Homo sapiens: one gene and its partner. The protein of the gene in region 1 purifies or fractionates together with the protein of each later gene. This does not show direct contact. Each region holds a gene or a part of one and is shown on either strand. Other genes may lie near its edges.

What was found.
Region 2: the proteins of LY9 (region 1) and IDUA purify together in Homo sapiens (affinity purification with mass spectrometry; one large-scale study listed by BioGRID and IntAct). This does not show direct contact.

The regions. Positions count from the first base shown.
Region 1 is NC_000001.11:160,816,545-160,820,355, forward strand, and holds part of LY9 (T-lymphocyte surface antigen Ly-9 isoform a precursor), read left to right. Parts: intron 1-49; coding exon 50-319; intron 320-1,673; coding exon 1,674-1,775; intron 1,776-2,776; coding exon 2,777-2,830; intron 2,831-3,811. UniProt on the Homo sapiens protein: Self-ligand receptor of the signaling lymphocytic activation molecule (SLAM) family.
Region 2 is NC_000004.12:996,733-1,000,543, reverse strand, and holds part of IDUA (alpha-L-iduronidase isoform a precursor), read right to left. Parts: intron 2,180-3,811; coding exon of another isoform or gene 1,555-2,179; intron 1,121-1,554; coding exon of another isoform or gene 789-1,120; exon of another isoform or gene 480-788; intron 1-479. Other genes in the region: uncharacterized protein LOC124900646, read right to left, coding at 789-1,120, 1,555-2,179.

The DNA of each region.
Region 1 (3,811 bases):
CTCAGGGGGCAGGCCTGATTCCACATGGAGTCTGCCTCTCTCCTCACAGGCAGGCTGAGGAAGCCCAAAATCACGTGGAGCCTCAGGCACAGTGAGGATGGCATCTGCAGGATCAGCCTGACCTGCTCCGTGGAGGACGGGGGAAACACTGTCATGTACACATGGACCCCGCTGCAGAAGGAAGCTGTTGTGTCCCAAGGGGAATCACACCTCAATGTCTCATGGAGAAGCAGTGAAAATCACCCCAACCTCACATGCACAGCCAGCAACCCTGTCAGCAGGAGTTCCCACCAGTTTCTTTCTGAGAACATCTGTTCAGGTTTCTCTCCATCTCTATTTACTCAGGTCACAGGACCTTGGGGCCTCCAAGAGTTTGCATCCTGACTGATTCTTTATGAAGTGCAGTAAGAGGCTGTGGGTGAGAGCCCTTTAGAGTGGCATGCTTCCACAGATATATGAGAGTCACGCATGTGATTTTAATGTTCTAATAGCCACGTTAGAAAAAGCAAGAAGAAATAAAGTTATTTTAATAATATGTTTTATTTAACTGAATATATCCAAAATATCATTATTCAACGTGTATTCAATACAAAAAAATTCATTAGACACTACATTTTATTTTGTACTAAGTCTTTGAGAGCCAGTATGTATTTTACACTTAGAGCACGTCTCGATTCCGATGCTAAATTTTCACTGAAAGTGTTTAATCTATATTCAGACTTCGTAAAATTTACAGTTGAAAAAATAGATTTATGCACCCAAGTTATTCCAAGCATATTTATCAGTTTTTCAAGAAGGAATTGAGTAGCCATTTTTAAATTTAAACTAAAACTAAATAAAAGAAGCAATTTGGTGTCTCAGTAATACTAGCCACACTTCAAGGGCTTATGCATAGCTTGTGGCTACCATATTGAACAGCACAGAGTTACAGGCTTGTGGAGAAAAGCCAATAGGAAGCTGATATGGAAAGGGATGTGGACCACACAGGAACAAAGGCTGCGTGAGTGGGAGCTAGAAAAGAAGCCCCAGTGGCCCTTAATAAATGCTAAGTACTATTCTAGGCCTTCAGGCATTTTTGCACAATCTTCGCAACAATCCTACAGAGTAGATATTCTCGTTTTTCCCCTTTATATGGATAAAGAAACTGAGGCTCAGAAAAGATAAGGGACTTATCCAAGGTCACACCATAAAAGCTGGTTTCGAACCCTGAGCTCTATCTTCTGCTCTTCCGTAGAAGGAAGCAGAAAAAAGGTACGGTCTACCCAGGATCTGACAATGTTGGGTCAGATTGTGTCTGGCAGACAGATCTAGAGTCCAGCTTAACAGGAATCTGGAACTCCCCTCATATCATTTACAGCGGGGCAGTGTAATGTGGCGATTAAGGGCGCTGTAGGATCTGCACTCGAACCTCAGGTCAGACACTTGAAACACTGTGACACTGGGCAAGCCGTAAACCTCTCTACCCAGGGACTGTCTGCCTCAGGTACTGCTATAACCTCTTGCCTAGAGTAATGCTTGCTCGAAAAATGGTTGTAGAATGAATGAAAAGAAAGACTTTCCACAACGTCATGGATTTTAAGGGGCAGGTAGGATGGCCATCATGTTCTGTGCATTGTTTGCTCCAGTGTGTCTTGTCATTATTTGAATTAACATCACTCATTTCCTCCTCAAAGGACCTGAGAGAAACACAAAGCTTTGGATTGGGTTGTTCCTGATGGTTTGCCTTCTGTGCGTTGGGATCTTCAGCTGGTGCATTTGGAAGCGAAAAGGACGGTGTGAGTTTCCGAGATCAATGTTGTCCGCCAGTGCTAGGCCATTTCCCTGGGACTTGTGGAGGCTTCTCTGCCCTCACACAATCCCGTGCTACCCCTCCCTGCCAGCATCTTATTTCTTCTCAGAGCAATGGGGGAGGGGTGTCAGTTGGGACTCTTTACTCACAAATAATAGAAGCCCAGTTCAAACTGGCTTAGACAGAAAAAAAAAGGCATGTGGGAGCAGGGAGAGTGATTTATTATTTTTTCACTTAAATAATCAATCTGTGGGGAAGGCAGGGATAGAGCTGGCATAATGGAGAAATGTCACCAGAGGCTCAAAAGTCATCAGAGCTCTCCACCTTTCATCTCTACTGTGTATTTTGAGTCAGCTTAACTCTTCCTACTGCAGCCCGCTGAGGGAAGGGGTGGGAGCGAGGGGAGGAGTGTACCACAACACAACAGCTGGCAGCTCCAGACCCACACATACTAACAGCTCCGACACCAGACAGGGAAGAAAATGTGCTTCCCTCTAACTCCAATTTAAAGAATGTCAGAAATAGCTCTGATTGGCCCAAGTTAAGGTCATGTGGCTGCTGCTTGGACCAATTTCTATAGCCAAGAAGATACACTATTATGATTGGCAGCTCCTCTAGAATCCCAGTATTGGAGTGGAAATGAAGTAGTAGCCAAAAAGAGCAGAATGGGTAGAACACATGGGGTCCCTGGAAGAATTACTGAATTGCAGGCAAACTACTCTGATCAGTGGCTATGGCAGAGGAGCTCTCTCTTCTGGAGGGATGGCAGGAAGCTCCAGAGCCTCCACCTCTGCAGAAAGTAGCCCTAGACTCTGGCCACCCCTTCACATAGGCCTGGCTTCTCATCAGGGTTCATCCTCCTTCCTGAAGCCTTTTCCCTGTCTATGTCCCAGAAGTCTCTCCCCTTCTCATTTGACTCTCACAGAATAAAAGACACCTCTCACCTCACAGCCCTCTTGATAAACCTTCTCTAACTTTGTTTCTCAGGTTCAGTCCCAGCCTTCTGTTCCAGCCAAGCTGAGGCCCCAGCGGATACACCAGGTAACATCACCCATGACACAGGCTATGGGGTATCTGGTCCAAATGGAAGTTCTAAAGTCTTGCTGCTCAAAGTGTGGTCTGCTGGCCAGCAGTGTGGGCATCACCCAGGAAACTTGTTAGAAATGCAAAATCTGACCAGGTGCCGTGGCTCACACCTGTAATCCCAGCACTTCGGGAGGCTGAGGCAGGTAGATCACTTGAGGCCAGGAGTTCAAGACCAGCCTGGCCAACAAAGTGAAACCCTGTCTCTACTAAAAATAGAAAAAATTATCTGGGCATGGTGGTGCACGCCTGTAATCCCAGCTACTCGGGAGGCTGAGGCATGAGAATCTATTTAACCTGGGAGGTGGAGGTTGCAGTCAGCCTAGATCACGCCACTGCACTACAGTCTGGGCAACAGGGCAAGACTCTGTCTCAAAAAAAAAAAAAAAAAACAGAAAGAGAAAGAAAGAGAGAGAAAGAAAGGAAGGAAGGAAGGAAGGGAGGGAGGGAGGGAGGGAGGGAGGGAATCTTGGGCATCACCCCAGAATACTGATTCCAAACCTGTATTTTAACAAGATCCATAAGTGATTCATATGCCTACTGAAGTTTGAAAAGGAAGGTAGCATAGAAACAAAAGCCAAGATAGACTCCTTAGAGATGGTCACCAGAGCTAGGAGAGGCAGTCTGTCCCCCAGGGTCTCTAGGGTTCCTTGGGCATTAGCCATTCACCATTTGAATGTGGACTACAATGAGGATGGAGTTATTGTCTCCATTCTGAGAACAGAGAAACAAAGGCCAGATGGAACAGTACATCTGTGGTAGAAAAAAATTTAAAACTTAATTAAAATTAAACTTCAGGAGACTGTACAACCTATTACCTAAGAGCATCGTGGGAAATGGAACTGCTCTGACAGGTTTTAGTGTGGGGAGCTGAGATGCCTGCCTTTACTCCCCCACTCCCATGCCACAGTGTCCTAAAATTTCACCTTAAACTCTGGA
Region 2 (3,811 bases), on another chromosome or scaffold:
GGCCACAACGGAGCATGTGGGAGCCTGCAAGGTGCCACACAGGACTCCGATCCCGGCTTCCCGAGGGGCCCTTCCCCTTGGAAAATAACCCTATGAAGGCCTGGTATGAACTAGAGTATCTGTACATGGAGACCCCCCAACCCTACACCATCAAGAGATGGAAAACTTGGGGTGGGGGTTCGGAATGGCTCTGAGGCTCAGTGGCACGAGGCAGGCCAGTCGCGAGCAGCAGGGGCCAGGGGTCAGGAGCCAGGCAGGACCTGGTGGACACCTCACCCTGGTTCTCTGCACCTCCTGGAGGCCCAGGAGTGCCCCATTTCCCCTCCCACACCCCAAGAGGCAACATGAGTGCACAGGAAAGGGAGAAGGGGGCCACCCTGCCACTGCACTTGCAGATGGGCTGAATTCCCATGAGGCCTGCATTCCGAGGGGACAGGCGTCGTCAAGGGTGAAGGGGGCCGCCCTGCCACTGCACTTGCCGATGGGGCTGAATTCCCACGAGGCCTGCATTCCGAGGGGACAGGCGTCGTCAAGGGAGAAGGGGGCCGCCCTGCCACTGCACTTGCAGATGGGGCTGAATTCCCACGAGGCCTGCATTCCGAGGGGACAGGCGTCCTCAAGGGAGAAGGGGGCCGCCCTGCCACTGCACTTGCAGATGGGCTGAATTCCCACGAGGCCTGCATTACGAGGGGACAGGCGTCCTCAAGGGAGAAGGGGGCCGCCCTGCCACTGCACTTGCAGATGGGCTGAATTCCCACGAGGCCTGCATTACGAGGGGACAGGCGTCCTCAAGGGAGAAGGGGGCCGCCCTGCCACTGCACTTGCAGATGGGCTGAATTCCCACGAGGCCTGCATTCCAAGGGGACAGGCGTCGTCAAGGGGGAAGGGGGCCGCCCTGCCACTGCACTTGCGGATGGGCTGAATTCCCACGAGGCCTGCATTCCGAGGGGACAGGCGTCGTCAGGGAATGGGAATCTTTGGTGAAGGGGATACGACAGGGAGTGAGGAGCCTGATGGTCAGCGAGGGACCTCTCTGAGGAGACACCTAAGGCTACCATGCAACGGGACCAGCCAGCAGGAAGACATCCAGGCAGCAGATGGCATCGCCAGTGCAAAGGCTCTGGAACAGGAATGCACACATGACAATCAGGCAGCAGGGAGGCAGCTGGTGGGCCTGAGACAGAATAAGGGTGGATATCATGGGATATGAGGCTCCATGGGGCTCTGGAAGTGACTGCTTTGAGGATGGGACCCTGACCCAGAGCGAAACAAGGATCCCTTTCAAGGTTCTGAGCTGAGCAGTGCCAGGGCATTTTTCTTTTTTCTTTTTTTTTTTTTTGAGACAGAGTCTCACTCTGTTGCCCAGCCTGGGGTGCAGTGGCGCGATCTCGGCTCACTGCAAGCTCCCCCTCCCGGGTTCACACCATTCTCCTGCCTCAGCCTCCTGAGTAGCTGGGACTACAGGCGCCCGCCACCACGCCCGGCTAATTTTTTTGTATTTTTAGTAGAGACGGAGTTTCACCATGTTAGCCAGGATGGTTTCCATTTCCTGACCTCGTGATCCGCCCACCTTGGCTTCCAGAGCATTTTTCAAGGATCCCTCTGGCAGCTCACTGGAGTCAGGGTGGGAGCTGGAAGACTGGCTGGGGGCCATGGGGGTTGCCCAGAGAGGTATGGTGCCCAGACTGGGTGGTGGCTGTGCAGGCTGTGAGCAGAGGGACTGATGAGGTTTGAGGTGAGCTGGGGGGTGAGGTGGGGGGTCGGGGGGTCGTACAGGGCAACTGTGGATTTCAGCTTGGGCAGCTAGGCGGGTGGATGAGCTTGGAGTGAGACTGGTCTCGGTTTTGGCCATGTGGAGTTGGACATCTGAGGGTGAACTGAGTGAGGAGATTGGTGTGCAAGGGTCTGGAGTTGTGAGTGATGCTTCTGGCCTGAGGGAAAGGGAATGGGGTGAATGGAATAGCAGCCAGCCTTGAGCCTGGAGTGAGAAGCAGAGACCAGGCTGGCCAGGGTCTGAGGGCTTCCTGCGGACGCCACGCAGGTGAGCACAGCTGCCCGTGGGGCAGTGCACCTCCTGTGGCAGCTGGCTTTGTGCCGCATCTGCAGTGGTGGGGGATGGGGTTACCACCATGGACCGGAATCTGGCCCTATACAGCTCCCCGTCTGTCAGTCTCCCCATGCCACAGCACCCCCAGCTCCACAGCAAAGGTCTGGACACCTCAACGCCTCCCTTCTGGTCCTCCCATGGTGTACAAGATCAAGGCAGAGCCTTGGCAGGAGTCTACAGCCTTTGGGTGTGGGCTCCTGCTCCGCCCCGCCTCTGCTGGTCCCCACCTGCTCCTGTACCCCGGGCTGGGTGTCCAGCAGGAGCAGCAGGAGTCCCTGGGGTCCACCCCACCCGGCCCCTACCACCTCTCCTCCCCTCCATCCAAAGGACACACTGGTAGCAAAGAAGTATAACTTAAGAGGCACTTGGATAAGAATTAAATGCCCAGAAGGTGCATTCCAAAGTCCCACGGAGTTGGAGTAGCGGGGCACGGTGACCTGGAGGAAAGTGAAGACCCAGCTGGGCTTCAGGTTTTCTCTGCAGAACCCCAAGGCGATAGCCCGGCAGCCCCTGACCCTAGCGGGGGGAGCCCCAGCATCAGAGATGTCCCTGGCCTGACACCCAAGGCGCCTCTGAGTGTCATCTGGCAGGGCCAGCCTCGCAGCGAGGGGAGCCCGGGACAGGGATCCCCGCCCCCAGGCCCAGGAACCCCGGGGTCAGTCCACAGGCCCGAGGGCCCACCCTCCGCCTGGCCCCCATTGGGAGGGGCCTTGAGAGACCGACGCTGGGGAGGGGACTGGGCCGGCGAGATGGAGCGCGCAGCCCACCCCCAGGGCCGGAGACGCAGACGAGCCACCGCCCAGCCCGGGAACGGAAGCCGCGGGGGCGCGTCAGCCCTTGTAGACCCCGCGCGGGGTGTCGCTGGGGCCGCGGCGGCCGCACAACGGGCTCATTCACCGCGCGGCCGCGGCTGAGCGGCCGCCCGGGTCCCCACGTCCCCGCCCCTGGGCCCGAGCGCGTGAGCCGCTAAGACCGCGCGGCTGCCGGGCCTGGTGAGTGCGCGGGGCGGGGCCGCGCGTGCATGGGGGTTCGCAGGCGGTGGGGGGAGACCGCGCGGGGTGGGGAGCAGGGCCGCGCTCTCCTGAGGGTGGGGGTGGGAGTGCGGGGCAGGGGCGGAGGCCGGGCCCGCTGGGCTGGGGGCGCGGGGCGGGTACAGACCCGCCTCTTGGGAGAACCTGCATCTGTGGCCGGGACGAAGGGGACACAGGTGCTAGAGGGTGCGGGCCGGGGCCTCCTCTTCTCCAGACCTCGGAGCTCGCCCACCCGCGGGAGGGTCTCTGGGAATAAACTCGGGTCCGGTCTCAAAGCCCTGTCGGCCGGGCTTCTTCCCACGGGTGGGAGGCAAGGATGCAAGGTCTCCTTTCCCAGTAAATGGACTCCAATGTAAAACGGCTGATTTAAAGACAAAACTAAGGAAGTAAGCGTGTGACACAAGACTGGCCAGGGGTTCAGGCGGGAGGGGGGTTCAGGAGGGAGGCGGATTCAGGCAGGTCCCAGTTGCTGGGGCCCCCACGCCCCCTGTCCTGCGTGGGCCAAGCGGGGAAGGAAGGAGGTGTTGGCAGCCCTGCGCGTGCACAGGCTCGGGGTAGAATGGGCTACCCACTCTCTCTGGCCAGCAAGGCCCCTGGACCCCCTGGGCACTCAGCCTCTGGGCCTGGCCACAGGACAGCACCAGCCACTGCCTCAATGCTCAGAGAAACTGAG